Linked DNA regions of Homo sapiens. The protein of the gene in region 1 purifies or fractionates together with the protein of each later gene. This does not show direct contact. Each region holds a gene or a part of one and is shown in the gene's direction. Other genes may lie near its edges. The genes, in order: AGPS and EMC2.

Region 1 (16,736 bases):
CCTAAAATGGAAGTGAATCAGATCTTACAAAGTAACTTAAATCATGCTATATCACAAAAGTCACACTAAATTCAGCTATCCCGTTTATAGGAATCATCATGTTTGTGTTCATATCTGGATTGGATTTGGAAATTTGATTTTGAAGTGTAGGAATGACTTTCAATATGTGATTGCTTATGACTTTCAAAATGTGATTATATGAAATTGAAATATACATATATTTCATACATATCAATATGTGAAATTATTCCTTAAATAGTTTTTGCAACTTTGTTTTATTAATAGTGGCATTATATATTACTTCTGGCAATTGGTTGTCTAGAGCTTCCTCAATGCATGTTTTAGCAGATGTTTTTAGAAATATTTCAGAGCTGCAGTTCTCAAGATGTCATCTGGAAACCCCCGTGGGTCCTTGAGACCCTTTCAGTGGGTCAGCAAGGTCAAAACTATTTTCATAATAAGACTAAAATGTTATTTGTCTTTTTCACTCCCATTCTCTCATGAGCGTAGAGTGGAGTTTTCCAGAGGTTACACAGCGTGTGATATCTCAAAAGATGAAATTCAAAAGCAGATATGAGAACCCGGCTGTCTTCTACTAAGTCAGAAGCCAGGCATCAAAGATATTTCTGAAAATGTAAAGGAATATCATTCTTCTCATGTTTTTTTTCTGGAAAATATGTTTTTTTTTAAAAAAATAAAGCATGTTATTATAATATGCATTGGTTTATCATTCTTTCTAAGTAAATTGATAAATCAAGACTTTAAATATTTTTCAATTTTAATTTCTAATATGTTATAGTTGGATAGATGTAAATATAAACAGAAGCTCTTTGTGGGGCATGGTGATCTCAATTTTTTTTTTTTTTGCAAAAGGGTCTTGCTCTGTTGCCCAGGCTGGAGTGCAGTGGCGTGATCATGGCTTACTGCAGCCTCGACCTCGTACCTCACTACCTCAGCCTCTCAAGTAGCTGGGACCATAGGCAGGCTCTACCATGACTGGCTAATTTCTTAATTTTTTGTAGAGGTGCAGGTCTCCCTATGTTGCCCAGGCTGACCTCAAACTCCAAGGTTCAAGTGATCCTCCCACCTCAGCCTCCCAAAGTGTTGGGGTATAGGTGTGAGCCACCACACCTGGCTGGGTCTCAATTTTTAATATTATAAAGGGATCCTAGAGACTAAAAAGTTTAAGAATTGCTGCTTTAGAGGTGTTTTGTTGTTGTCATTGTTGTTTTGTTTTGTTTTTGAGACAAGGTCTCGCTCTGTCGCCCAGGCTGGAGTGCAGTGGTGTGATAATGGCTTATTGCAGCCTGAACCTCCCAGGACTAAGCAATCTTCCCGCTTCAAACCCCCCACCCACCCCTAGTAGCTGGGACTACAGGCATGTGCCATTATCCCTGGATAACTTTCTGTATTTTCTGTAGAGGTGTGGTTTCGTCATTTTGCTCAGGCTGGTCTTGAACTCCTTGGGATCGAGCCATCGGTGCAGCTCAGCCTCCCAAAGTGCTGGGATTACAGGTGTGAGCCACTGCGCCCCGCCTGTTTGAGTATTGATATTGGTAAATATCAAATCTTGATTATATATATTCCAATAAAAATAATTATTTTAAAGTGATTTTTGACTTGGGTTCCCAAAATACTTGTGCATCTATCATTTTACAATAAATCTGAGATGTAGGCAAGTCAGAAATTATTCCTACTTAAAATATGAAAAAAATCAAGAAATCAAGAATTTTAGATTGCATACTAAGTTAGCAGAAGAGAAATTATACATAAGGTACTTTCAACTCTCTCCCAGTTATTTGGCTAATTTTAAAATTAGCCTTTTGCCCTGTACACTTCAGTGTAATTGTGACATCCAGGAGCACAGTGAATGGCATTGTGACACAACATGGAACTACCTGCAGCCACTTTCACATTAAACGTCTTCACCTCCTGAGCTAACTCACTTCCCTTTACTGCAACAGACAGCTAACCATAGTTCAATGCTTTCCTGTCATTCAAACACTGTAATCTTCTTTCTGTAGTTGTTTAGGTCTTCATCCTTTCTCAGTACAACTTTTTACAATGGCCAACAGGTTCTCGGGTATACCCAACAGGTTGACTTCCACTTGGGAGAAAATTCCAAAGTAGTGATCTCTTCAGGCTTGTCATGCTAATTCCATGCTCAAGAGCTTCTAAAAGCTCCCACCAGCAAAAGTTTTTACTCTTTTGCTAAGTTTTCAATGCTCCCACGGTTGGTCTCACCTTACCCATTTAATTTTATTTCTCTTCCCTCTACCAATAATTAATTTTTTCCAGGAAGACTGTCTTCCTTATACTAGCTTCACTTCCCCTTCAATAATAGCACTTAGAATTTCTGTTTTTGCTCATTAATCCTTTAATGCTCCTGCGAACCAAGCCCAGGATCAAGACAACATATTTGGCCATGGTAGAGCCAATATTCAAACCTAGGTGTGTGTAGCACTGAAGCCACTGCTCTTAGCTATTATACCAACTATATTAGTAATTCAATTACATTAAAATGGGCTAAATGACCCACGATTGTATGCTCAGATTGGTTAAAAGAAAACATCTAAATGCATTTACAAGAGACACATCTAAAATATATGGATACAAAAAGATGAAAAGTTATAGGATGGAATTATAAACACACTCACAAAGCTGGTGTAGTTAAACTCTAAAACAAAAACCATTATTAGAAACAAAGAGGGACACTTGATAATTATAAAAGGTTCAGTTTGCCAGAGAAATATAACAATTTTGATATATCTAATACATAGCTTCAAAATAGAGAAAATAAAAATTAGCAGACCTACAAGGAAAAATGAATAAATCTATAACAGTGGAATATTTCAACATACTATCAATAACTAATAGAATAAGTAGATAAAATACCTTTGATTTAAAAGATTTAAACAATATAATCAGCAAATTTGAACAGGCATTATATGGAACTCTATACTCCCAAACAAGAAAGAATACTTATTCTTTTTAAATACAAAAGTGAATTATTTATAAGTGAATAATAGTGAAAATACAGTTATTAAAACTTGAAGGAATAAAGTGTGTTGCTTAGAGAGAAATTTATACCCCATAGAGATATAGTCTCTAAAAAAAAAAAACTGCCAGAATGGTAGCACACACCTGTAATTCTAGCTACTCAGGAAGCTGAAGTGGGAAGATTGCCTGAACCCAGGAGTTCCAGGTTACAGTGACCTATGATCATGCCACTGCCCTCCGGCGACAGAGTGACCTTGTCTCAAAAAAAAAAAAAAAAAAAGTAAAGAAACAACAAACAAGTATAAATAGAAAATCCAAATAGCATTATGTTATTTAATCTATGAATAAAAACCTTCCCATAAAGAAAACTCTAGGTTCAGATTGTTTCTTTGGTGAATTCTACCAGACATTTAAGGAAGAAATAATGATCAATCTTATACAAACTCTTCTTGACACTAGAAAACAAAGGAGTACTCATTAGCTTGTTTCATGAGGTCAGCAAAACCTGACATGAATATTACAGAAAGAAAAATTTCTTTTAAATTACTTTTAAATATAAATATACTTTTAAATATAAATACAAAAATCCCTAAACAACATTTTAATATACTGTATTTAGTAATATATAAAAAGGTCAATATCTCATGACCAGGTTGGGTTTATGCCAGGATTACAAGGTTTCCTTAACAGTAGAAGGCCAATCCTTATAATTTACCTTACTAACAGAGTAAAAGAGAAAAATCATATGATTATCTCAACAGATACAGAAGCCACCCCTGCCACCAGCCCATGCTTTTTTTTTTAAGACAGAGTCTTGCTCTGTCACCCAGTCTGGAGTGCAATAATAGCACAATCTTAGCTCACTGCAACCTCCGCCTCCTGGGTTCAAGTGATTCTCCTGCCTCAGCCTCCTGAGTAGCTGGGATTATAGGTGTGTGCCACCAAGCCTGGCTAATTTTTGTATTTTTAGTAGAGATGGGGTTTCGCCATATTGGCAAGGCTGGTCTTGAACTCCTGGCCTCAAGTTATCTGCCTGCCTCCGCCTCCCAAAGTGCTGGGATTACGAGCGTGAGCCACCATGCCCGGCAAGAAAAAACATTTGCTAAAATTCAATATCCATTCATGATAAAAACTGTTGGCAAACTATGATCAAAAGTGGAGTTCCTTAATCTGCTAAAAGGTTTATTAAAAAAGCAAAACATCAGAACCCTACTTCAAACAATGGCAAAATGTGGAGAGATTTCCCTTGGAAATCAGGAACATTATAAGGTTGCCATCATCTAAACTTCTATTCAACATTGTACTGGAGGTCCTAGCCAGCTGGGTAAGGCAAGAAAAAGCACAAGATATAACAATTGAAATGGAAGAAATCAACTGTCATTATTCACAAATGATATAATTCTATGTAAAAGATCTAGAAGAATATATAATAGTTAAGATAGTGTGATACTGATACAAAGTTGATAGATAAACCAATGGAACAGAATAGAGAGCCCAGCAATACATCAGTGCTTATATGGACACTCGATCTATGACAGAGGTGGCAATGTCAAACAAGAGCTTTTCAACAAGTGGTGCTGAGACAACCCCCCATACCAATGTGGGGGAAAAAAAAAAAACTTGACCTCTACTCCATAAACACCAAAATCAATTCCAGGTGAACTATAGATATAAATATGAAAGGCAAATCGATATAGATATGAAAGTCAAAAAAGCCTTATAAAAATAAGGCTTCTAGAAGATAATACAGGAGAATTACCTTCACTACCTCAAAGCAGAAAAAGATATCTTAAACAGAACACAAAAAATGTCAAATAAAGGAAAAGGTTGGTAAATTTGGTCACAATGAAAGTTAGATCTATTGCTCTTCAAATATCACTATTAGGCAAATAAAAAGGCAAATCACATAATGAAATTAGAAATTTGCAATACATCTATCTGAAAAAGGCTCATATCTGAAATATATAAATAATTCTTACAAATCAATAAGACGATGACAGGTAACCAACTGAAAGATGAATAAGAGCCTTGAACAGGAGTTTCACAAATAACGACATCCAAATAGTCAACAAACACATAAAAAGGTGCTTGATCTCATTAGTAATCAGGGAACTGCAAATTAAAACCACAATAAGATAATAGTACACATCTACCAGAGTGACTGAAACTAACTAGATTGACAATAACACATATTAGAGCAATGGGAACTTTCATATACTGCTAGGGCAGCAAATTTTGTAAAATCCCTTTGGAAAATAGATTGGTGTTTCATTATCTATTACAGTTAAGCACAGTTAAACATATGTACACTTTCTGACCTAGGAATTCCACTCTTAGATGGATACTCAACAGAAATTCACATGCCTGTACACCTAGAGACATCTACAACAATGTGCATAGTAACGCCTATCCATAGTAGTATGAAACTGGAAACACTTCGAATGTCCATGTCTATTAATTGTCGAAAAGATAAACTCTGATATATGGATTTAATAGAATACTATACAGCAAATAAAATAAATGCACAACTACAACGTTATTAAAACTCATAAAGATAATGTTGAATGAAAGAAACCAGACACAAAAGAACATATCATAATCTTCTATTTATATAAATGCAAAAAACAGGAGCAGGTAAAAGATATATGCTTAGTTGATAAAACCATAAAAAACAAACAAGGAAGTGCTTATCATACATCTAGGACAATGGTTACCTTTGGTGGCAGGGAGAGTGCATAAAGTGATTGGGAGAGAGCATAAGGGGGACTTCTGGATTCTGTAATGTTCTATTTCCTGACCTAGATGGTAGATTAAAGGTGCTTGATTTGTGATAATTTATGCTTTGGTTCACTTTTCTCTGTGTTATATTTCACAAAAAAGGGTATAAAAATCCAAGAATTCCTATATTTAGGGATCACTCAGAAGCTCAGAAGACAAGTAATGAAAATCAGAGCAATAAAGAAATTTGGTGCATGATTCCAGGAGTTAATCTATCCTATTTAGACTTTTTTTTGTGCCTCAAGTTAGAAGATGTCATGAATGCAAATAAATCCACTCCATTGAAAATTACAGGTCATACATTCACTGCTTGTTTCTGTGCATGTGGTCTGTTCTCAATTAAGAGCCAAGTGTCCCAGGACTCAGAAAGGACAGGTTTGTTGAGATGGCCCACCTAAAAGTGATATTCACTGAGGTTTTAATTTTTGTGGAAATCACAAGAATCTCGATGGACTTGGCTTCATATGAAATATCTGTTCCTCTGGTAGCATGAATTCAGGGTATCCTGCTTGGGTTCTACTTTTGTATGGAGAGGTGGTAGGAAACTCTTCATCAAGGTCACCTTCATCCTTATTCCCACTAATAGTATTACATAATTTTTTTCCCACTTACGGACTGACTTCTAACTAGCCTGATTATACCATGTAAATGAGGCATTGGCTTAAACACTTTTGCATCTCATAGCACCTAGTAGTGAATTAGGTACATGATAGGCTTTCAACAAATGCTTTTACCGTCTATATGTTTTCATTATTGTACACATATTTAAAATATATACAATCAGTAGTTTTCCTACTGGTACATAATTTTGGTTTACATTAAGCTTTTCATCACCCAGAAGAAAGCTTTTTGTTACTCTGTTAATATCTGCAAAATTTATAAATTTTTGCCTTCTGAGAGTTGGCAAGAAGCATATCTATAACTTAATTTGGACAAGGAAGCAGTTAACTACATTTACATTTAAAGTATTTTAGTAGTGTCAGATTGAGCACTCCAGGGAGTCAGGCAAAAATTAACAGATCCTTCCGAGCTTGACTGGATAGTGCTCGAACAATCGCTTAAGATCTGGAGATCTAGCACAAAAATCAAGTCCTCCTCATTGTCTGCCTTTTCTCAGAACCATTAAATAGTTATTTTACATTAGTCAAACAACTCTTAGAATGTCTTAACTTTTTTACAGAGCCTGTGTTACAAAGGAGGTGGTGAATCAGAAAGGAGGTAACTGCATAGGCTTGGAAACCTTACAGAAACCCTTTTTCTTACCATTCCCAAAACTTACCTTTGACTTGCACATTACATAGAAATAAACTTATTTCTGATGGTTGGATCTGCAAGATGGCTTGTAAAAGCCTATCTAATCCATAATGTACTGGAAATGGTATTATTTTGACCACACCTAATCATTTATAGCATTTTTTTTTCTGACAAAAATACATTTACAGCCCTAGGTCAGTATGCAAGGGACAAATACTTCTCGCATATTTTTCTTCTCCATACCCCAGTGTGGGTTATAACAGTAGTATGGGAAAAGTAAGGTTGATATCTCCAGGCACCAGTAACTTAAACTCTACAACTGTGCTATCAAATATAGTCACCATGATCCACATAAGGCCATTTAAGTTTAAATTAATTAATTAAAATTAAAAATTCAGTTTCTCAGTTATCCTAGCCACATTTCAAGTGCTCATAGTCACATATAACTAGCAGTGACAGTACAGATACAGAACATTCCCATCATCTTGGAAAGTGCTCTTCTATGAGGTAACTTTCTACATTAAATATTAGCTAGGCATTTTCCCTTCCTTCCTTCCTTCTTTCTTTCCCTTTTCTTTGCATTTTTTTTTTTTTTTTTTTTTTTTGACAAGGTCTCACTCTGTTGCCCAGGATGGAGTGCAGTGGCACAGTCTCGGCTCACTGGAACCTCCATTAGCTAGGCATTTTCACATGGGCGAAAAGAGGAAAACAGTTCCTATGGGGACTGTGGCTCAGTGTCTCTCCCCAGATTCAAAGTGACGAGTCACTTATAAATTAAGTATAAGTCTCAGATTCTTATGTGGGATATGAACTCTGTCTTCATGGAGTTTATGGCCTACTGGGAGTAACAGACATGAGTAAATGAAAAGTTAATTAACATATAAAGGCAGTATATGATAAATGATAAGCAAGAGGATAAATTCTCAGGGAAAGAATAGATTTAAGAGACACAGAGGATAATGTACTGTTGATGTACTTAATATAAAAAGCAAAAGAGGAAAAGGCTGAAAATAACCCTGAGGTTGATGGAACAGGATGACAGTGGCACTTTGGTGGACTATAGGGAAGCATAAAAGGGAGGGGAAAATGAGCTCAGTTTCTACCCCATTCAAGGAAGCACATGGAGAATCACGGGATTACATTCTTGCAAAAACAAAAAATGACCTACTGTATCAAAGGCTACAGGACATCTCAATTCAATAACTGATAGGTCTAGACAGCTGTTATCATATTTCTCTGCAACAACTTCATCAGTGACATCTGAGATTGGATTCTAAAGATACAGGAGGAAGTAAAACATGAGGAAATGGAGGTAATGCCTAGATGAACTGAGGGGATAGTATACAGGAATAATTCTTGGCTCATTAATTATTGGATTGAGCCACCTCCATCTATCTGTTTTGGAGACTGCTTTATCAGGTCAGAGGAGATGAGTGTGACTTTCTTCAGATTGTGCAAGACAAAAAGAACACCATTAGAATTATGTACATGACACTGGAAGGCAAAGTGGGTTTTAAAATTTTAAAATAAGAGACAATTCCTCTAATTGACAACAAAATCAAGTAAAGGAAAGGAAGCTAGGATTTTTCTTCTGTTATCAAACATGTAGGAGCATATAGCCACTTTTCTGGTCATCAGTTGAATACTGAAAATGTCAATCAGGTGCAACTTCTTTGTTGTGAGGGTAGGCAACAAAGTATGCAAAAGCCAGAAACTAGTGGCTTGCAGGCTTTGATATTTAATTTTACAAGATCAACTAAAGATTCTCTTTTTTCAGTCATAAATACCTAGGAAAGTGCTATATGTGTTTCATGTTCTTGCACCTCATGAATGAGGTCGTGATAGCTGTGGTGGCAATCTCTGAAATTCTTCCCAGAACTCAATCCTTAAGAACCAGGAGTATAGTTTATAATTAAAGTGAAAATTTATTTTAGAAAGTTCAATTTTAGAATCTATAAAATAAAAAACAAAAACCCCAAGCCTACGTAAGTAATTTTAACGTAAAATGTTAATGGCCCCAAACTCTAATGGTGGAATAAGGACAATAACATGAAGTATATGATATTTGAGATAAAATATAGCTATTTAAGAAAAGCTTCTTACTCTCCTTGAGCCTTCATCTATAAAATAAGGATAATAAAACTGTGTCATTGTGTTACTGCAAAGATTGATTAAATAGATACGTATAAGATGCCTAGGTTATGGCCATTTTTTATATTTAACAAATTCCTAATTCTTTCTTGTTTCTACAACTGTACTAAATTATTTTAATAGCTGCAAAAGTATTTTAACATATTGACTAACCATTTCTCTGTTGCTAGACATTTGGACTGTTTTCAATGGTTTGGTATCTCTTCGTATATAAATTTCAGAAGACATTCGGACCTCCTGTAAAGGCCAGGTAATACATATTTTGGGGCTTCTGGGACCACATAAGGTCTCTGTTGCATATTCTTTTAAAAAATTTCTTGTTTTCTTTTAACAACCCTTCTCAAATACAAAAACCATTAGCATGAGGGCTGTGTAAAAACAGGCCACAGACTAGAGCTGGCCCTCCAACAGCAATTTGCTTAGCCCTTAATTGAGAGTTTTTAACCAGTCTGGGCCTCTTTGGAAGTTCACTCTAAAGGCATAATCTCAATTTTAGAAGCTGGCAACACCCAAGAGAGCAATTGTTAGTCTCTAGTCCCATGGATGTGGTGTTCTTCAGATTCCTCTGCCAATATTTTTCTTGTTAGGAAAGCATGATGTGAAAGTGGTGACAGGATGGAGAATGACAATGGCCAGTGTATGTGAGTTTTTGTCTAAGCTAATTCTTATGCAAGACACCGGCTGAAACAGGTGAGGAGCACTTTTCACGTGCTATCTTCCAGAAATGAATTCAATCTGTAAATAACTGAGATGTCTTCACAGCTCTTGGGTAATTTTTGTCTGTAGCAATAAGAAACTTTATCTCTATTAAAGTTAGGAAGGGGTTAGGATCCAGTAATGAATGAAATGAGAACTTAAGTTGCAACTCAGTTTCTGTACTTACTTGTGATCTAGCATTAAACACAGTGCCAGGCACGAAATAGGTGGTGAGAAATAAGAAAATGATAGAGCTATTTGCTCTAATGGTTAGAGGCAATGATGGTCAGCTTTGAGTTACTTTGGTGACCCCGCAGGGAGGAAGAGCACAGGTGGAACATTAGAATCTCTTTCAGGAAAAGGATGCCGCTGGATCCATCAGGTCCAGTAGCACTGCCCATTTCTCCTGCTCCAAGGCATCTGCCCTCGAAAGCCCCCAGGCCACACCCGAGGACACCACCCAGGGTTCTAGGACACCTCGAGGGCGGACGTGGTTTGGCTCTCGGTCCAGCTGGACCGGGCTGGGCCAACCGGGAGTCAGCTCGAACTCACCTGCTTGGCAGGTGCGCGCTTCCCGAGGCGTGACAAGGGAGCGCCGGCGCGGTGGGTGGGGGGCAGAGAATGTGAAGCTCCAGACGCATGGCACCCGCCGCCAAGTCGCCGCGGTGGCTGCCGGGATGCGCCGCAGCGAATGGTCGCGCCGGGCGCCGCTCTGAGTGACCTTTCACCCGCGCCCAGCGGTTCCGGGCGGCAGCACAAGGCGGTAGCCATGGCGGAGGCGGCGGCTGCAGCGGGTGGGACTGGCTTGGGCGCGGGCGCGAGCTACGGGTCTGCAGCGGACCGGGACCGGGACCCGGACCCGGACCGCGCCGGGCGGAGGCTGCGGGTTCTCTCTGGCCATCTGCTGGGCCGGCCCCGGGAGGCTCTGAGTACCAATGAGTGCAAAGCGCGGAGAGCCGCGTCGGCGGCCACGGCAGCGCCCACGGCCACTCCCGCCGCGCAGGAGTCGGGCACCATCCCAAAGAAGCGGTGAGTAGCGGTATGTGGAAGGAGTTAGCGTCGAGGGACCAGGCCGGGCCTGTGCTGCAGGAGGGCACAGGCGAGGTGGGAAGGGAAGTGACACGGGTGGGCGGAAGGCATCCCGGTCCCTGAAAGTAGGGACCCACCTCTCTTTCGAGAGAGTGGACTAGACCCTGGATTCTGTCAGGAAGGGGGCGGGATGGGATGGTGGATTTTGGTCACTATGTGAGGGTAACAGGCTTGAAGAACTCTCGTTGGAGAAGGGTTTAAAGGATTCCTTTTTCCTGAGCTTTTAGTGCCAGGAATTCATTTTTTATCTTGAATTAATACTTTTGGTGCTGAGGTCTTGGAATGGGTAGCAGAGGTTCTATTTTTCTCCGAGGAGATATAAATTTGTACTAGATGATAGATCATAGGAATCTCTCTCATTCGCGAAAGCCTGCTGTGGGGGAAACTGGTGGTGCCCTGGAAAAAGGTGCTGACTGGTTTCTGTGGGGTAAGTTCCACTTGCTTAGGATCAAGATGTATTGACTTTGAGGGAGGAAACCGATGAATGGTAAGAAGCCATAAACTGCAAACACTAGCTAGTGGTTTAAGGTGTGGTGGTATAGCTACTGAGCTCTGTGTAACCAGAAGCTAAAAGACAAGAGTCTAACCGATGAGGGATGTTTGTAAGAGATCTTGACTTTCGATGTTTTTGGAGAAATCTTTTTTTTTTTTTTTGTATTTTTAGTAGAGACAGGGTTTCACCGTGTTAGCCAGGATGGTCTCGATCTCCTCAATCTCTGATGAAGGCTATTAGGAGAAGCTACTTTCTGACGTGTGGCTTTGTCACCGTGGATAAATGGATAAACCGAGAGTGAAAAAAATAAGTAGCTAATGTTTAAAGTGTACTTTTAAGTGTGCCAAAGTGTGCTAAATCCTTTGTTTCTTCCCAAGCTATGAGGTATGTGCGGTTTTCTCCCATTTTACAGATGAATAAATTAAGTCTGCTGGAGTCTTAGCAGATATGCTGTGTGACAGGTTAGAATTTGAAAGCACATCAAATTGACTTCATGGCCAAGTTCCTAAGCTATACTTGCTTCTGATGAATTAATTCAACATACATGAGTCTTTACAAAATACACACTGTACCAGCAATACAGAAATTTAAAAATACGGTATTTACTCTTAAGGAAGGAATAGCTTAGTAGGTAAAATTATAATACAGCGTTATAAGAAACTTAACTGGGAACTATACCACCTGGTCATTTAACCCAGTTTTGGGTTTGTGTTTGTTAGTGCAAAGATGTTCCAAAGTAAAGATTGTCTGAGTAAATTTTGGATGTTTGCATTACTAATAGTTTGCCAAAGGGGGAAATTGTTCTTGGCATACAAACAGTATGTTCACAGGTAAAGAAGTGAGAGACAAATTAGGGAACTGCTGAGACTCAAGTGTAGTAGGAGAGGGTGAGAATGACAGGGGACGAAGACTGGAGAGGTGAATCTTGTTTACAGGATTTTACGTGGGGCAATACATGATTAGATTTACCTTTGATAAAGGTCACACTGGGAGCAAATTGAAGACAGTTGAGCATTTTGGCAGTATAATGGCTGGGAACATAGACCTGGATTTCAATTTCCACTACACCGTTACAGCTCTATGATCTTGGGCAAATCACTTAACCTCTGAGAGTTTCAGTCACCGTCATTTGTAAAAACGGGAACAGTAATCCTGTTTTGCAGTGTTGCTGTGAGAATTGAAAAAAATAGAGTTAAATGATCAAGTGTTTAGTGCAATGCCTGTTACATAACCTTTCAAAGAATGGTAGCTGCAATTTTCACAGTGTCTAAAGGCAGAGAGACTAGGAGACTATTATTCCAGGGAGAAATGCTGGGATTCTGAACTAAGGCATATTATTGGGAGTAGGCAACTTAATTGAGAAAATGCTAGGAGGTAAATTTTCCATAACTTGGTTACTGAGTGGTGGGGAGGGGAGGAATAAAGGATTTCATCTCGTCTCCTGGCTTCAATTGAGGTTATATTATTAATAGCTGTCATTAGGTTTAAAATTTTCTAAATGGTTTCATGTACATTTATGTGTTCTCATTTGTATGCATATATGTGATTGTACATTTTATGTAGATTCACACTCTTAGAACCAAGTAAGGAGGGCAGGTTTTCCTTATGGTTAGATTTAATGGCTTGGTTTACAGCATTCAGAGAAAAAATAGTAACGTTTGTAAGGCACACCAAGATGATGGTTGAAGGTGACTGGTCAGGGATGCCCTGTGTGGCTGCTCCAAGGACTGAAGGCATCGATAGTTCAGGCACGACTGTAACCCATTTGTTGCATAGGTTACAGCTGGTGGGAAGCCCTGGTCTTTGGTTCGGGGTTAGACGACTAGTGGTAAAATCTAGTCCTGTACTGGTACTTTGAGATTTTCATCAAAATATGAGGGAACACAGAAACTTGTATTAGATGACACATCAAAAGCTTCCACAGAGGGTGATATACTTGATAGATAATCATGAGGAACCCAAGTCTCCCTTCTACTTCCTACTTAGCTGGGCCTGCAGTTGCCAGCTACAGAATCCAGCCTAAAGGGAAGATAAATGATAGAGGAAGAAGGAACCACAGTATATATCTAATAAGGTGTGAGTATGCCTATATGTCAATTATTTTGGAATAATTTTGTGATTTGTGTATTATTCCTTCCCTTTTATTACTTTGGATGATAACATTGCTTGTAATTGTTTTATCACATGGTTGTTTTATCACATGGTTGGTTATATCACATGGCCTGGAGTAGTGACTTCTTGAAATGCCATATTTTCATTCCTGTTACAGAATAGTCATGCATATGTTTCAACATTTATAGAGTAGTTGCTTTATGAAGGTCCTGTCCTAGGCATTGGAGGTAAAGAGATGAATAAGTAGTCTTCAGCCTCAAAGAGTTCACAATCTAGGAAGTGAGAGACACAGTGCAGTTTGATTAGAGCCACTGTAGATACAGGTACAAATGTAGCACAAAGGAAAGACTGACTTACTCTATATGGGGGTGGGAGGGTGGGGGTGGTCAGAGGAAGCTTTCTGGAGAAGATTTTAAAATGTGGATGGTATTTTGAGAGTTTATATTCCAGGCAAAGGGAACAGCATATGACAAAGCAAGGGGCCATGAAAGTGCATATCGTATTTACATAACTAGGTGATTTAGTATTGGTAGAGGTGAGAATAAAATGAAAGGAGGGCAGTGGCAGGTCATGGAGGTCTTTGGCTTGTGGGTTATCAGTCCATTCGTTCATGCATTCATTCATGCTTATAAAATATAGCAGTGAACAAAAACTCTGCCCTATGGAACTTATATTCTAGCTGGAGTGGAGACAGTGAACAAACAACTAATATAGTATGTCAGGTAGTGATAAATATAAAGAAAAATGAAGCAGCTGAAGGGGCTTGGTGATAGAGAACCCTTGAAGGAATTAAGCTGGGAAGAGACATGATCAGATTGGGTTTGGGTTTGAGAGAAGTCACTCCAGCTACAGTGTTAAGAATGGATTGGAGAACGGTAAGGATGGACATAGATCAGTTAGAGGAGATCAGTTAGAGGAGGCTGTTGTAACACAATAGGCGAGAAATAATGAAGAATTAAACTAAGATGATGGCAATGAGAATAGGGAGGAAATGATGTGTGTGAGAGTTTTAGAAGTTCATTAGGTGACACCATTAAAGTTTAATCACACTTTAAAACTATGTAACTAAATTAATGCCACAGGAGTTTGGAGACTGAATGACAATAGAAAAGGGATGACACAGTCCAGAGGAATGTGGACATTTCAGAGGGCTGACCAAACAAAACCTGCTGTTTACTTATCACATGGTCTCCTATGAAGTTGGCACCAATTACTTCTTTTTCTTTTCTTTTTTTTTTTTTTGCTATGGAGTCTTGCTCTGTCTCCCAGGCTAGAGTGAAGTGGCGCGATCTCAGCTCACTGCAACTTCCTGCCTCCCGGGTTCAAGCGATTCTCCTGCCTCAGCCTCCGGAGTAGCTGGGATTACAGAGCCTGCCACTGTGCCCAGCTAAGTTTTGTATTTTTAGTAGAGATGGGGTTTCACCATCTTGGCCAGGCTGGTCTCGAACCCCTGACCTAGTGATCCACCCACCTCAGACTCTCAAAGTGCTAGGATTACAGGCATGAGCCACCACGTCTGGCCGGCTCCAATTACTTCTATCCCGGAACATATGTTCTCATTATTTGAAGTTGCTGAGCAGAGTATTGAAGTGACAGTTTACTCTTGGATCCTCCCTTTTTCCTTAAGTGCATGTTACCCATGTACAGTTTTTCTTTTGACTTTGCTTCTAAGTGCAATTTTAGATCCTTAAAAATCATAGTAAATGTCAATTACATATGTGACACTTTTACGTCTTGGTTTTGGATTTTTTTCAGTTTTTTTTTTTTTTAAGGCTCTTGTGGTCTTACGAAAAAGAGAAGAAAAAATACCATGTTAACTTTCATTCTTCCACACTGCTAACCTCTTTCCCAGTTATAACTTTGGCTCCAACCTCATTGTGGTTTGCATTAGTCAGAACTGCTCAATGGCAGTTTTTACGGAGGTTATAAATGTTCAGGTCAAAAGAATGATTAAGAACGCCACTAATTGTTTAGTCTACTTGCTTATAATGTCACTTACAAATGCCATTTTAATAAAAAGCAGTATATTAACGTCGGGCATGGTGACTCACACCCCATAATCCCAGCACTTTGGGAGGCCAAGGCAGGCAAATCACTTGAGCCCAGGAATTCAAGACCAGCCTGGGTAAGATGGTGAGACCCCATCTCTACAAAAATACAAAGAAAGTTAGCCTGGTGTGGTGGCACAGGCCTGTGGTTTCAGCTACTGGGGAGGCTGAGGCGGGAGGATTGCTTTGAGCCTGGGAGGCAGAGGTTGCAGTGAGCTGAGATTGCGTCATTGTACTCCAGGCTGGACGACAGGGCGAGACTGTGTCTCAAAAAACAAAACAAAACAAAAAAGTATTATTTAACATCTGCCGGAAGCTTTGGTAGATATTTTCCAGAAGGAATACAGCTGAGTTAACCTCTTGTAAATATTTCCCAAGAGGGTATCCTGAAGCCTGTAAGAGCTGATACAGAGCAAAGGTTATTTGCACAAGTGACCTGGCTTAAAACTTAACATCGTTTGGCAAAATTCGAGCTTATTTTGGTAGTTATGTTGAATGAAATATTTACCCTATTTTGAGTTCCTAGCTAGGAATTCTAGTGATAGTAGTAATAGGAGTTTTAATTGACTAAGTCCTAATATGACAGGAACCATGCTAAAGCTTATGTACATTATGTCATTTAAATCTCACACAACAGCTCTGAAAAATGAGTGATACTATATGTACATTACAGTTGAGGAACTAGAGGCTTAGAGAAGTTAATTTATCTAAGGCCTTGCATTTGTGAAATGAAAGAGATGGCATTTCAACTCTGTTCTTGCTCCAGAGTCCATATTCTTTCCTCTATGCTGGATTACCACATCTGATGTTCCCGGGGAGATATCTACTTACTATTCATCAAGTTGCTGTCTTTGTCATGCTAAGTTTCAAAGTTTTTGTGATTAAATAGATCATGATCAAATACTTTGTCATATAGTTAAGAAGGCATTAGTTTATGTTGTACTTAATAAATTATAAAACATCATTCTGTCAAAATGAAATTCATAATAAGAAAATGTAATGGGTGGTTTAAAAAGGTAGACCAGCCAGTTTACTTTTGTGAGTGCATTTTGCCATTTGACTTGTGGAAGAAGACAGTGTTTGGAATGAAAGGGAATTAGGAAGAATGTGGAAGA
Region 2 (16,355 bases), on another chromosome or scaffold:
TGTGTCATCGAAATAGGATATATTTTGAAGGAGATGAGAAAAGTAATTTGGAGGCTGTTCTTAGGCTAGAGATTATGGGAATCTAAAACTAAGACAGGTGGAATTGGAGGGGACTGGGCTACTGTCAGCCTTTATTTTTTATGTTACTCAAGTACCAGTTTTGGCACTTTTTTTTTCGGCTTGCGTTTTGAAAATGATTGACTTTTCATACTTTGAATCTTCCTTAAGGGGAAAAAATTATATCCATTGAGTGGGAGAGTGCCCAGCATTTGGTAGGCTTCCAGCGAATACTTGTTGAAGGAATGCCTTTCAGAAAGCAGAGTAATTATTGTCTTTTAGTTGATTTCATACTTCAGAAGATCAGATTTTGTCCTGAATTGTGAACTCTGCCTATTGTGATATATCAAATATTTGAAGTTTTATTTATGAATTAGATGTAATTTCCTCTGTGCCAAGGGTAAAGATGGTTTTTTTCGGTGAGGGGAGGGTGGGGGTCGATTTTTATTCAGGCTTCTCACAGTGGTTAGAGCCACTCTATCTTCAGAACAGTCACAACACAGGAAATGCACCACTGAGACTGCCTAGAAAAGTCTGACCAGCTAAATCTTATTGCTTAAAATACACATATTCACAAAAACTGGTAAATGGTAACATGCCTCACACAGGAATGTGTTTGGATTTGCAAATATCCTGACTGGCTGTAGCACCAAACCCTCCACTAACCCCTCATTCACCTGGAACACCAGTGTCACTCACATTTCCCTGGCCCCCTAACTATTCCTTCAATTCCTTATAAAATCTCTCTCTGAGAAGGGTAGCCTCCTGTAGCAGGGGCCAGACTGTGACGTGGGAATTAAGCCCAGCTCTGCAGGTTGCATTTTCATCTTTTTCATCTTCTCACGCCTTGAGGGTAAGATGCTGCAGTGAATCCCACAGTTAACACTCAGCCAGTTCCCCCACTGTAACTGGGGAAAGAAACTTGAGAGGGTCAGAATACATCCATTTGATTAGTAGTTAACTGAAAAAGGGTTCCTTTTGGTAAAACTTTTTCACCTTTGAGTCATTTCAATGAGTTATTTGAGATTCTTTAAAAAAGGTAAAGGAAAGGCATCGGAGGGGCTTTGACACACTCTGGCCAACTCTGGCCATACGCCAGCCTGCTTGTGCCCATTGGACTCAGTGGAGGGAGGCAGGCAGGCCCTGAGCTACCTCCAGTGCCAGCAAAGCCTCCTCCTGGCAATTCTGGGTGGGGATGATGTCTGGGCCACAGCTAGTCCAAGTCTGTCATTGAAGATCCATTCAAGCTCCTGTTTGAAATTCCACCTTCTTCTGTCCCAAGTGGTTGTGGATACCCCCAGGGGTTGGTACGGAGGACCAGGTGCAGCCACAGGGGGCAGATAGGCTCAGAACATGTTTCCATTTACAGGAAACAGAACACAGGCCTCTGTGTGACTGTGGAGCAATGTGCAGATTGCAGTGATGAGTAGAGTAAAACCTCCACTTTGAGCTCAGCATCTCTGGTGAACACAGGGAACTGCAGGCAACAATGCTGCTGAATACACCCGAGTGCACAGTCAGACGTGTTCCGTAAACGGTAAATGTGTAAGACCAATTATCTTGAGAGGGTATCTTGCTCCAGAAGATGCTTTTAAAATGCCGCATTTTCCAGGCTTCTAGGTATAAACCTTGGGGGCAGGGAACCTGGATTCTCCTTTCCTTTTGCTGGTCAACTGTCCAGTTCCTTCTGGGTCCCTGAGTCTGGAGTGAGGCAGGGGGGAGGTTATAGATTGTATTTTGCCGGTAGGCCTTAATCCTTTAATCCTTTTCTAGGTAGTATCTCTTCCCCAGGTAGCCTATTTAAAATAAAAAAATGTATGTCTTTCAGAAAAAATTGCTAGCTAGCCCTATTCTGAGTAATATTATAGAAGGCATGTAGCCAGTTGGATGAAGATTTATTCATGGTCTTTAAAAGTTTGAAACAGATTATATAGGTTTCCGTTTATTGTTTGGCACTAGTGTATATATATCTTTAGTTGGGAAAATCTTACAGGAGCATGACTCTTCCAATTCTAGTCTTCATTCAGGGTCTAGCTGTCCTGTAGCCACCTTCCCTTTGATTGTTTTAGTAAACATCACAATAACCTTTATGCTCACTCCAAAGTTTAAACAATACTGTACTTTTTAGTTGTTCTTTCTCAATTTTATTTATATTTAACACATGTCACTTAAAAGAATGTGAATTCTCTGAAGCCAGGGATTGAACCTTATGTATTCGATGCTCTTTGAAGAAAATAGAATAGGATCTATGTTGTTGGCCAGTTGATTTACTTTTGAATAATGGAGTAAATTGTTTGTGGTTCGTGGTATTCTTTTAGTAGCGTGTTTTTCACTATCATACATGGGTTCTTCAGAACTATTGTTGCATTTCTTAATGCCTCCAGATTGTTTATTCAGAACATCGATTAAGGCTGCAGACAAATTATATGAATTGATATTGGCTAAAAATCTTCTAAACTTTGTGAGGTCAAAAAATGTAATTATTAGCATTTATTAAGGGATGATATAATTTGTTTATTGAGCTGTGATTTTGTTAATTTTTAAAAAACATTTAAGTGAAGCATGTTCAGTTAAAAGAACAACTTATATGGTCATCCAGATTTCTACTTTACAACTGAGAAAAAGCTGCAGCTTTCTACAGAACAGAGTATAAATATGAGGAAAATGGTGAAAGGGAGTGATAGAATTGAAGAAAATGATGATGATGTGATAATGAAGAAAGGAAATGTTTATCAGATATTTACTATGGACCATCACTGAGCTAAACACTTTACATATATTATCCCATTAATTGTCATCATAATCCTTTCAGATATTGTCTTTATTCTATAGGCATACAAGGTCATAGAGAAGTTAAGTGACTTGCCCAAGATCTTACAGTTAGTAAGAAATTCTGGATAGGTACTTTGATTTCAGAAATTAAGGCTCTTTATCATGAGGAAAGAAGCAATGGTAGTAAATGGGATTGAGAGTAGGTAGTTAATACACGTGACAACCAGCTGTTACCCCTACAGAAATTTTATTATTTAAATTTAGTCAGTTAACGAGACTGTACTTGCTGCTGTTGAAGAGTATGTGAAGACTAATAACTTGTTTTTATTTTTAAAAATCTAAGTATAATTTTTATTTTATAGAATATTATGCTAAGGAAGCTATGATAGAATTTTTTTTTTTTTTTTTTTTTTTTTTTTGAGACAGGATCTCGCTCTGTTGCCCAGGCTGGATTGCAGTGAGGCAATTATAGCTCACTGTAACCTCTGACTCCTGGGCTCAAGCGATCTCCCACCTCAGCTTCCTGATTAGCTAGTACTACAGGCGTGTACCACCACACCCAAGTAATCTTTTAAAATTTTTCGTAGAGATAACATTTTGCTGTGTTGTCCAGGTTGTTCTGAAACTCCTGGGTTCAGATGATCCTCCCGCTTTGGCCTTCCAAAGTGTTGGGATTACAGGCATGAACCACTGCACCTGGCCAAAATTGGTCTTTTTTACAAGCCTTTTTTGTGTGCCCTAAATGAGACCCAGAAGCCACAAGAAGCCTTGTTGAACCTCATTCTGGTTGCTTGATAATCATTCAAAACCTAGGGTTTTGTGTGGCTTTTGGGAGATAAGCTGCTGGACTCTTTATTCACAGTTAGACATTATATGAATAAGGAGTTGGACAGCTGAGTATTAAGTGTCCAGAGAGCAAGAGACTATGGCAAAAAAGAGACATGAACAGATTCAGGAGTCCCAGGATTTGCAATGTAAGTCTGGGCTTTGTTTTTTGTCTATGTAAAATGAAGAGATGTAATTATCACTGCCTGCTCCTCAGTTCTTTCCAATTGTAAAATTTGTGATGTATTCATTTATTCTGCAGATAGCTACCGATCTGCAGTAGATACTTCCTTCAGTGTCCAGTACTGTTTGGTATGAATGCGTGGAAACTAAGATGTGCGTTTCTATTTTTATCTTAGTTTTTTGAACCAGTGTTTTTGTTATTATAATTGGTTATTTTATGTATGATACCTTGTATATTGTTTAAAATTTTAGATATGCTTTGAATTATGTGGCAAAACTTTAAGACTTTAAGTGGCTTTTTTTTTTTGAGACCGAGTCTCGCTCTGTCGCCCAGGCTGGAGTGCAGTGGCGCAGTCTCAGCTCACTGCAACCTCCACCTCCCGGGTTCAGTTGATTCTCCTGCCTCAGCCTCCCAAGTAGTTGGGATTACAGGTGCACACCACCACGCTCAGCTAATTTTTTTGTTTGATTTGTGGCATTTGTATGCAATATTTTCTTTTTTAAAAATGTCTATTTATTTTTATTTTTGTAGAGACAGGGTCTCACTATGTTGCCCAGGCTGGTCTCTCACTCCTGGGCTCAAGTGATCTTCCCACCTCAGCCTCCCAAAGTGCTGAGATTACAGGCATGCACCACTGCTCCCAGGTGAATCCAACTGTTTTCAACAAGTTTTCACTGCTTACAGTATCTCATCTCTGCTGTTGCAAATCCTGTAAGGATTGGGACAAGATATAAATATCAAATAAAGCAAGTCTGTGCCAGTCCTTTAAAGATTGCTTAGTTAGAATTTTGTGGCAAGGTTTAACACGTAAACATTAAGTCTAGAACCAAATGTTAAAGAAAGGAAGATAACATTTATTTAATATTATTATATGCTGTGTTAGTTGCTTTATATTGATGCTTGAAGATAGATGGTATTACTGAGGTTTGTAGAGGTTAAAACTAGTAAGTGATAAGAGTTGGGATTCAGTTTCTTGTCTTTTGGATTTCAAAACAGACATTATGCTCTGTATATTGTCTATGGAAGAAGTAATGTCATGAAAAATGAAAGATTAAATTATGTTTCAGATTTTGGTGAAATCAGATATTAAATGGCCGAAAGTTTCCTGATTATATGTTAATTTATCCCTCATCTATTTGGAGGACTAGGGACAATGCTCCCATTTTAAGTCTAAAATTCTTAATGGCTTTAGGGTTTGAGTTACTTTCAGAGCTTTACTTTTACTTTTCTTCTGAGTTCTTGAGACTTTTAAAACTTTGCATTTATTGTGGCACATTTTTGTTTTACTTAGTAAACTTATTTTAAAAATATTTGCTTGTGCCTACTATGTGACAGGCATTGTGCTAAAGGCCTTTGCCATGACCTGATTAATTAAGGATATAGATTCTTTTTTTATTTTTTATTTTTTTTACTCTCAGGATATGCTTAAGGATATATATTATTAAAACATCATTTTTTAATTACCCAAAATATTATAAACATTGCTCTGACCCTTATTTATTAGTCTCTTGATTTCTCTAAACTTTCACTTTCATTTCTTCAGAGCCAAATCACTCTCTTACCACCCCGTAATGAGTAGCTCTTGATACTGTAAAGAGACCACATCCATTTTACTTCTGTCTGCATCTTGTGGAATATTATATCAACAATAAGAAATTTTATTCATAATTAATAAGTTTAGCTTGGCCTCAGTTATAGTATGGTTTATTGTTTATCCTTCTGTATTTGAAGCAAACATAAATAGAGAGGACGTAAATTTAATAATTTATACAGTATGCTCCAGTCCCTGACTGTTTACTTCAGCCAGTACTGCTTTCTCCTAGGCCTTTGCTCATGTGTTCTTCCCACTATGCAGTTTCCATAAATAACTTCCTGTTTTGTTTTTTAATGTCTACTTACTCTTTGTTTCAGTACACGTATCATATGTGGGACCGTCTTTGCTTTCTGTCTTTCCAGTTCGTCCACTCTGACACAGCATGTGTCAGAATCTCTTCCTTATTTTCATAACACCCTAGATATCCCTGTCATTGCTCTTACTGCATTAACTTTTTTATTTGATACGTTTTTGTCATGAGAATGAGCTTCTGCAAGGAATTATCATTTCTTTTTTATCTTTATATTTTCATTGTGTAGCACAATATTGGCAAACAGTAGAAGTCTGGTACATATTTGATGAATGCACAATAAATGGCATTGATTTTTATGTTTATCATTTTAAAAACTTTAGAATACAGCTTCTAATTGTTTTGCTTATCATACAATATTTATTTCAGGACTGTATTATTCTTGTGAAAGACTCATAGGTAGATTTTCTCTTAAAATTGTGAAAAAGTTGTCAGAAGACATATTTATATAATGATATTCAAAGGCCATGCCATGGTGAGATTTTTTTTCCCCTAATCTCCACTGTTCCTCCCCCTCTTAGGATACAGATCTTATGAATGAGACAGAGTAAAGGGCTTTAAGTTGGATAAAGATTAAGATTCCCTGCTGGTTAATAATTATCAGAATCTGGATGATTATTTATTTGGATGAAACGATGCATACATTGTGTGCATCAAAAGTAAAGCATATGTGATTGTTAGAGGAATGTTTGAATTCCCCAGTGGGATGTCATGGGGTATGTTTATAAACTCCCACTAAGCAGTAGTTCTACAATGGAATTTCTCTGGCATTGAGATAATAATTTGCACAGTCAAATTACCTTCTTTACAAAACCCCAAGGAATCATAAGGGCCTAATCCTTTATTAATGTCAACCCACAGGCTGCAAGAAAGCGTAAGATTGCCATTCGAAAAGCCCAGGGGAAAAATGTGGAGGCCATTCGGGAGCTGAATGAGTATCTGGAACAGTGAGTATTTTACAAGAGGATTGTGTTTTGTTATTCTGATAAATCTTTTTTAATTAAAATGGAATTTGCATTTGATTTTCCTGTTTGTTTTCATGCTGTTCATTTACAGAATATCTACACACTTACTTTTTTTTCTTTTCCTCTCACCAGATTTGTTGGAGACCAAGAAGCCTGGCATGAACTTGCAGAACTTTACATCAATGAACATGAGTAAGTTATTAAACACACAACATTTTGTTGAGTGCAGTTTTCATCACTGTAAGTTCAGAAAGCACTGTGGTTTCCAAAGGATTGGTGAGAGGGTGTGAATCATGTCATTTGAAATGAGAAACAGAACAAATCAACAATTAAATGAAAAAGAACAAATCAGTAATTCACTGGTCATAATAAGTGAATAGCTTTAACTAGGTCATTTGTGTTTTGCCAAATTGTTTATGTTTAGGAAATAAGTTTTTCTTTCAAATATAGATGGCATTCTTTGGAAATAAAAAGGCCTGCATTTGCTAAGCTAAGTTTATTTTTGGTAAATCAAAATTGTGAATTTTTAGAGTTCAGATTGTTCTTATATACAAAGAGTATTATACTCCCTGCTGTTTAAAAATTCTGTCAATTGTATGCATGTATTAGCCTTAGTACTAAGAGAATCAACTCTTCCAAAGTAGAAGCATTCTGTTGCCTGGGTAAAAAACTGAGAATAATCAAGAATGTTGAATGCTCTAGGATCTTGCTTATTGGATGTTTAATGTTTTTGTTAGCTTTTTTATTGCTGTAGTGACAGGAGGAAATCCCAGTGTGAGAGGATTAGTCCAGAGTCTTAGTGCAAGTTTTCTAATATTACAGCATTAATGCTAACCTCCATCTAGAGGCGTGTTTTTTATTTTTTTTCTTAGTTCTTCTAAATCTGAAGTATATGACATTGTTTCTTTTCCTTCTTTTTGACAGAATAGAATCAGATTCTCATGCGCATTTTCTTGTGCATGAATATTTAACCTTGTTCTCATACTACAAACAACTGATGAGAAACAGAATGAAGACATTTGTCTATTGTCTGTGGTCTATATATATAATGTGATCTAGAGGATTGAGGTAGTCTATTTGCATAAGTCTAAGGAAAGTGGGAGCTAAAATAAAAGTAATAGCTGTAATTTAATGAATGTATACTATATTCTAGGAACTGTTTTTCAAGTTCTCTGCTATACTCTGAAACAGATATTCTGGTTTTGATTAGGAAATTATTTCCTGAATCACATTCAGTATAGATGATATGCTTGTATGTACACATATGTAAACATACTCATGATTTCTTACACATGTGAAACAGTATATAATACTTATATTTAAATACATGAAATTGAATTTTTAGAGTATAGTAAAAATAATTAGCATTAATTTTATTTTGTTTCTAAAACAGGTGACAGTCATTTAACATTTTTTGTACTTTCTAAAGATTTTCTGACTAAAAGCATTTTAAAACATTTCAAATCAACAAGGAAATTTTTTTTTTCAAGTTAAAGGAATACCTAATGCAGAAAATTTGAGAAACACAGTAAAGCATAAAGACCAAGACAAAAATTACATGTAATTCCAGCATCCTAAGTTAACTATAGTTTGTTTGGTTTTTGTCCTTCCTTATCTTTTAAAATAAAAGCCCAAAATAAAATTATCTTCCGTAGTTTATACTTTCCCTTAGTTATATTTTGTTCAAAAATTTCTTGTCACTGTAACAATCTACAGTGTGTTTTGAATGGCTTTATATTATTTCATCTTACTAATTTACCCTAGTATTTTTAACGAGTTTCCTAGGGAGATATAAAGGTTGTTTTATATTTTTATATATAATGCTGTAGTGATCATTTTTATTTTGTTTCCTTGGGTTAAATTCTTTGAAGTAAAATTGCTTGATTAAATAAGATGTACATTTTCTGTGGTTTTGATAAATAGTTCCTGATTGTTCCCTAGAATGGTAACATCAATTTACTTGCACACCAGCATTTACTAGAGTCCCTCTTTAACAACACTGGATACTATGATTCTTTTTTAATCTTTACAAGTTTGATAGGTGAAATTGGTTCTACCTTTTTAGTTCATTTTTACGAGCTCTTTTTATAAAGGAGAGCAACCATTTGTCAAAAGTATATCCTTGTTATATGCTTTTTAAATACTGACTTCTTAAAATTATAGAAACTTTACATTTTTAGAAAATCAGATTCATCAATTTTTAACATTATCATGTCTGCTGTCCTTTAATAGCTTAAAAATATATCACCTTTTCCCCCTACTTCATTTGCAATTTTATTTTTTTGCATGTATTTCTAATATTTATTTCATCATCAAATTTAGGTTATACCTTATTTTTAACCTACCATTAAATTTACTTATTTTTTTCACCATGTGGTACCACCTTCAGTTTTGCTTTGTTTGGAATCTAAAGAGTTTATTGAAACAGAGGTGAATGTACACTTAAGAGAAATGAACTGAGAAATCTCAAAAAATGAAGATTTACAAAGATGTAGGAGCACCTAAAAATATTTTTTTAGAGAAAATGATAATTATGGTCAGCCTACCCTTTTATCTAGTATCACAAAACTCTTTTTGGTCTTAAAGCTAGTTAGTTACAAAATGACCATTTTTTTTTTCTAATTGAACACTTAGAAGGAATATTTATGTTTAGGTGACTGGAAATGCATATCTACAGGTTTTTTTGAAACTGTGAAAATTACAATCAGTTCACTTGATTCATTTGACATGTTTGAGCAAGTCATTATAGGAGGCAGGAATTTTTTGATGGAATGTTAAATTATCGTAGGATATCAGTTTTAGCACCAGTCTTGGGGACACAGTGGCAAAAACGTAGCAGTTTCGAAAATGTCAGATATATTTAACATTCGATATTCCTTTCTGCATATGAACAGTTGTAAGCTTTTTTAAGTATAATAGGTCGCAGGCAGCTTTGGTAGCCTATATCTAGAACTATTTTTTTTCTTTAAGAGACAGAGTCTACAACATTTCCCAGGCTAGACTTGAGCTCCTGGGCTAAAGTACTCTTCCCACCTCAGCCTTTTGTGTAGCTGGCACTACAGGTGTGTCACTGTGCCCAGCTCTGGAATTTTTAAACTCCAAATAAATATCTATAGTATAATTTTCATATAGCCCTATTTAATGTTTCTATAGAGAGAAAAAGGGATATAGAATTGTGCCATGTAACCTTTTTATATTTTTAAGTTACTTTTATAAGTTTGTTTCTGATTTATAGTTTGTTTTTAGTTATTCCAGGGATATATGTTACATCCATTGACCATATTGAGACACTTGTTCTAAAGTTTTAAAACTACAGTTAATTTTTTTGTGTCAGCACTACCAATATGTATTATAGGTTAAGTATCCATAACCTGAAAATCTGAAATCCACAATACTCCAAAATCTGAAACTTTGAGTGCCAACATGATGCTCAAAGGAAATGCTCATTGGAGCATTTTGGATTTGGGATTTTTGCGTTAGGGATGTTCAACCAGTAAGAATGCAGATATTTTAAAATCTGAAAACTTCTGAAATCTGAAACATTTCTGGTCCCAAGCATTTTGGTTAAGGGATACCCAACCTTTGTAAGCAAAAATACATTCACATTATGAAAGACAAATTTTTTTACTTCATTTGTTATTGAAACTAGATACTATACAGCAAGGAACAGTTAGTATTATACATTAATTATGATTGTGATTATAGTTCCTTTTCATAAGTCCAGCCTTTTAAAATTCCATATCAACGGAATTACCACAATTCTTTAAGGAAAAATTGTGATGTTGGTAAAGTAACACACAGTACCAAATACTGTAACCTTTAGTTATATATACTTTTGTAAGGAAGAGAAGAAAACTTTATTTAGTTCTAGTACTGACTCTAATATTGTAATAACAATTGTTATTCTGTTTTAAGTAGATTCAAATTATTTTTACTTCTCTATTCTTAGTCTTGTTGAGTCACTGTGTGTAATGAATTAACTTCTCTATGCACCTAGAATAGTACTGGCTATGTATTATCCCTGACAAGACTGAGGAAATAGTCACTTTCTGCGTGGCCTAACAATGGCCTAGAAAAGCTGGACTAGACCATCTGTTGAGCTCCTTCTAGCTCTAATTTTATTTAATTCTATATTTTATCCACAAAATTAGTTTGATACTGTACTTTATAAAATTGGGGGAAGGAGTCCTTTTCTCATATGTGATGCTAATTGATTTTTGAGAAAATATCTTGGTATTCATTTTACCCTAAGAGCTGCTACTACCTGCCCATTTTATCTTGCTTTATGCACCAGTGTCACAGTTGTGCTCAACCCATTTAAATGTCTAAGAACTTTTATTCTTAGTCTCAATATGAATTTTTGGCATCATACTATTAATAATTAAAGGAACACATTTAGAAGAGAACTGTCTTTTGATAAAGTGTTTAAGGTAGAGACAAATTTTCCCTTTTCTTTTCGAGTGATAAATATATATTAGGTAGGTAGTCATAACACATTTGTTTTAGACATTTATTCAATCATTTGTTCAGTCTTATTAAATACCTATCATGTGTCAAGAACCAATGCTAGGTTTTGAATTTAAAAATGGAAAGGGCTAAATAGCTGCATGATCTTGGATGAGAGTACACACACACACACACACACACATACATATATATATGTGGTCCTTCATAAATCTAAAATGCTGTAATTATTAGGTAATCTGCAGGGTGTATTTTTTTTCCTCAGTCCCTTTGGGTGTGACTGCTGTACACATTTTCATGTTACCATTGACATCTTCAGTTTTTCAATGTGATGTGTAATGCATATAAGCAGCATATGTAGTGGTTGAAGAGTACAGGCTGTCTGGAGTGGCACAGCCTGGGATTCAGTTTACATCTCTGTGCCTCAGTATTCTCAGCTCTAGCATGTTGATAATAATTTCCTTCTTCCTAGGGTTTTGGTAGGATTAAATGAGTTAATACATGTAACACATTTAGAACAATGCATGACACGTAATAAGCATTTAGTAAAAGCTATTATTAGTATACATGTGTGAAACAGGAAAATAATTTTTAAAAGTATATCAGGCAGTAGTGTAAAGGTAGATCCCTTTGTATACTGGTAAATGCCAAAAATAACTTTAGGTAGCCTCTTTTTGTTGGGTAGTGTCATCACTTCCTCACTGGGAAGAAATCTTGTAACACCTGTGTTCATTAGAATTTCCTGTAGATAGTGAGGATAGTCACATGGCATTAAACGTTTAAAATATATTTAGTGAATTACAGTCACATGCTTTAAAATGTTTTTCCAGAGCTCTTTCTGGCAGTTCTCTTTCCTTAGGTTTTCAGCAAGATTTTTGTTTATTCTACCACAAGATTAAATAATAGTACAGTATATATCAAAACCAACTTGATCTGTTTTTCATGGGCTTAGAAATTTATAACTTCATTATAATTTGGTATTTGACAGTGAACTTAAGTAATGAGAGAAATCTTTGTAATAGAATATGTTGGTAAATATATGCCTGTGAAGAATTTTTAGTGAGTAGAGAATATTTAATAAAATGTTTATTTTCTCCTTACACATTAGCTGTTTGAATATTTTTTTAAATGATCAGTCAACTTCCAGAAGTTGTTTTATATACAGCTTGATCCAAGGTCTTGAAGCCCTTCTTATTAGTAGTGATGGGATGTAGTAGGAGTGACCCAGTTTTTGAAATGTAGTATCTATTGATTGTTTGCAGGCTGCTTTAAGATTTAAGCCTGTGTTTATTAATTTCATGATAAAATTTAATGTCATTGATATTTATGAATTTCAGATGACAAATACTTTATTAATAAAGCTATGTAAATTATATTGGGAATAAATTGTTTAACATGACTAAAGTTGTTTTTAAATTATTTCAAGGTTTAACTAAGATAAAAATTTGTGACTTTAAAAATTAATTTCTCCTCTTGATGTGTTTTTAGCTATGCAAAAGCAGCCTTTTGTTTAGAGGAACTAATGATGACTAATCCACACAACCACTTATACTGTCAGCAGTATGCTGAAGTAAGTGTTTTCAGAACAATGGCATATAATTTTATTTTGGTTACTATTCGGTGTTATTATGGAACTAAGAATATTTCCTTGATGTTAAGCAAGTATATAAATATTTAAAACATCTGATGAGCATTGAATTGTGGGAATAAAAGTTTAAAATTTTTAACATTGCAGTGGTAATACTGACTTAAGACATACTTAAAACAGTGAAATTCCTTGTATTTTTATATTTGTATACTATTTTCTTTCCTAATTATAAGTTATATCACATTTGTCACCACTTAATGGCTTGTGAGACATTTATAGTGATTATGATTGTTAAATCCATATTCTGGGAAATTTGTATTAAAGCCAATTGGGACATAAGTATTTATTTAATTTGCATATTATTAAGAATAGCAGTACAACTGAATGCTATAAGGCTAGAAGGACTTCATTATTAAAGAATGTCCATGCAGATTATAAAAGGACAATTCAATATTTAAGTCCACATTTATAATGCCAGTAATAGAAAATACAATGTGAGGTGAAGCATTTGCGAGGCAGCTGAAATAGAAATTATTCTGGCTTTTTATTGCGGCAGCATTTTTGTTTTAGAAACTACTCAGTCATCTCAATGTTCATAGAATAGAATAGCTTTTTTGGGGAAGGTTATGTTTGAAATTTTAGATTAGCTTTAAAAACCTTTAGGTGAATTCTTTTAACATCTTGTATTTGTTTACAGAGAATATCTGTTTCGATTACTGAATGCCTATGGTATGATGAAACCATGCTATATTTCAAAGTAGTAAAATAAACAGTTTTCAGCACTTTGCAATTTTTAACAGGTTAAGTATACCCAAGGTGGACTTGAAAACCTCGAACTTTCAAGAAAGTATTTTGCACAGGCATTGAAACTGAACAACAGAAATATGAGAGCTTTGTTTGGACTTTATATGGTGAGTTGAGGTGCATGTTTAATGTTATTTTTAAAAATCTGTCACTTAAAATCCATTTAACTATCCCCTTCAATCACTCCTCTCCTGTTTTTTGTATTTTATTGATAAGCATGTTTTTTTCTGTAATTAATTCTGAGCAATAGCTTGTGAGCCAGTTTTCTTTTTGAATGTTAACACAGCCTAGCTGTTTGACATTCTTTTTTTGTAAACTATCTTTTATATCAGAATTGAAATCTGCCCTTATAAAATTAAATAGTGACAGATAGGAAGAAAACATGATTTCTTGTTTTGATATTCTTGGGTTTATGCCCAACATTATTGTATTTCTTCCCTAAATTATAGTTGTATGAGGTATTTTTAAACAGTGCCAATAAAATACATTAGAAATCAAATCCCTAATACATCAAATTAAAACATTTTTTATGGTGTAGAAAAACAGTTTGGAAATTGTGGGAAGTATGTAATGACCTATTGTTTAGGTATGCCAAATGCTGAGCTTAGAAAAGTCAATTAATAAGAGCTGTGGGAAATAGAGGAATAATCTGCTGACCTTTAAAACATATATATAAAGTGAGCACCTCCCTACAATAAGAAACGCTGGGAGAAATAAACTTTAATATTTTATTTATCCTGTTCCTTTGACTTCTTGATGAGTGTCTTCTTGTTGCAGCTCAGTGAAAAGGAACTGAGTGAAGAAATGGAAATAGGAAGAAACAAAAATGAAACAATTTTTAAAAAGGAATGGCAAAATATGGTTAGAAGGTGGTTCAAATGAATTTCAAGAAAATTTTCCTGGATTTTAGCAAAGCCAATTGCAATGGCTTGAAAATACGCTATAGTAGAAGTATCTCTGTATCAAATAAATACTAATTTTAAAAACTAATATACAACAAATTAATAATAGCTTATACATGGCACTTCATGTGCTGGGCATTGTTCTGAGCTCTGTTTTTTATTTTAAATCAATAAATCCGCACATCAACTGTTTGAGTAGGTGCTCTCAATACTATCCTCAGGTGGTGAAACTGAGACACAGATTTAATTAATTTGCCCAAAGATGGGCACAGAGCTCCTAAATGATCGAGTTGGGTTTCCAGCCCAGGAAGTTAACTCCAGAGTTTTTCTCGTAACCACTGCATCTGCTAAAATTCATAAGAAGAAGGTAACATTAAAGTCATAGAGGTATAAAAATCAGATTTGGGGATATAGATTCTTCACTGGCAGAGAGGGAGACATAGGTGAAAGAGCCTATAGCACAGGCTGGCATAAAACAAAGGCTTAACCTTTTTTTGAATCACATGGTCATATTCTTTTAAGAGTAAAATATATTTAAGAATAGGAATCAAGTTATATCTTACTCTTCACAGTAATATATACATTTAATAATTAGCATATGATTTTGGGGTTTTATGGATTCTTTCACAGATCCCAGATTAAGAACCGCTCATTTAAATACATTTTTAAAAAGGAGAGGGTGGATCAAATTGCAGGGACTAATTAGTTCTCTGAAACACAGTTTGAAAACTCATGGTATAGTGAAAAGAGAAATGGATTAGAGATAAGGATCTTCTTTATTTCGAAGACCCATTATTTTGCTTTGGTCAAGTTAAATCTCTCTTATTGGACTTAAATTTCTTTAACCTATTAATGTAGGATGTCAGGCTAAATTATTTTTGAGTTTCCTTTTTCTATAAATATTCAATAATTCTATGATTCTGACATAGCAAGTTATGTAATTCAGTAATAAGAAATAACACCAGTAATATCCTACAGTGGTAAAGTGCTTTTGGTTTATAAAGTGTTCTTCTAGAGCTTCTTTATTTAAATGATATGGAATTTTACCTTTAAGAGCTGTTACAGGTACATAATTAAATAATTTTAGGTATTATTTAAAATATCTTTTCCCTTTCCACTATTTTGGATTTATACTATATTTTAAAATATATTTTCATTTTTAAGCACTAATATTCAACTTTATGTTTATATTAAAAATTATTTTAATACAGTTTTTAAAAATTCTTTATTATCCCATTGCAACCATGTCCCTTATGTTTTTGATTATCTTGACTAGCAAAAAAGGAATTTTGCTTTTGATGTTTTTATTTGTTTTTAGTCGGCAAGTCATATTGCTTCTAATCCAAAAGCAAGTGCAAAAACGAAAAAGGACAACATGAAATATGCTAGTTGGGCAGCTAGTCAAATAAACAGAGCTTATCAGGTTAGTATTTATTGATCATTTTGCTATGTAGGTCAGTTAATGTATTTCTTAGTTTTGTTACTACAAACTACAAAGTCGTATGTCTAGCATTGGACTTATATATGCCTTTGGGGCTTTATCAAATGTGTTGTGTTTTGAATTAATTTGTAGTTTTAAGATTACCTTTTTTTCCCCTCAAGAGGAATCTGTTAGTATTATTATTTCATAATTAGCCTTACCATATGGAAATCTCAGTGGTTCTGCATTTGGCAAACGCAAAGTAATTCTAAAAACTCAGAAAGGATAAATAAATATCACGTCACATTTCAGAAGCAGATTGGGTATGTGAGTGTATTATTAATCATAGGTATCTCAAGAAATAGAAAAGAAGGAAGAAAGCCTTAAACTAATCAAACTGCATAACAAAGTTTGTGCAGTCTGCTTACACTTCAGATCCTTTACTGAAACTTCTCCATTTGTATCTTAGT

Evidence for each region.
Region 2: the proteins of AGPS (region 1) and EMC2 purify together in Homo sapiens (affinity purification with mass spectrometry; 2 studies listed by BioGRID and IntAct, with this or other methods). This does not show direct contact.

The regions. Positions count from the first base shown.
Region 1 is NC_000002.12:177,382,142-177,398,877, forward strand, and holds the start of AGPS (alkyldihydroxyacetonephosphate synthase, peroxisomal precursor), read left to right. Parts: upstream 1-10,631; 5' UTR 10,632-10,648; coding exon 10,649-10,908; intron 10,909-10,913; exon of another isoform or gene 10,914-10,983; intron 10,984-13,432; exon of another isoform or gene 13,433-13,537; intron 13,538-16,736. UniProt on the Homo sapiens protein: Catalyzes the exchange of the acyl chain in acyl-dihydroxyacetonephosphate (acyl-DHAP) for a long chain fatty alcohol, yielding the first ether linked intermediate, i.e. alkyl-dihydroxyacetonephosphate (alkyl-DHAP), in the pathway of ether lipid biosynthesis.
Region 2 is NC_000008.11:108,463,223-108,479,577, forward strand, and holds part of EMC2 (ER membrane protein complex subunit 2), read left to right. Parts: intron 1-6,603; coding exon 6,604-6,689; intron 6,690-6,839; coding exon 6,840-6,899; intron 6,900-7,631; coding exon of another isoform or gene 7,632-7,761; exon of another isoform or gene 7,762-7,941; intron 7,942-12,659; coding exon 12,660-12,741; intron 12,742-13,559; coding exon 13,560-13,670; intron 13,671-15,783; coding exon 15,784-15,888; intron 15,889-16,355. UniProt on the Homo sapiens protein: Part of the endoplasmic reticulum membrane protein complex (EMC) that enables the energy-independent insertion into endoplasmic reticulum membranes of newly synthesized membrane proteins.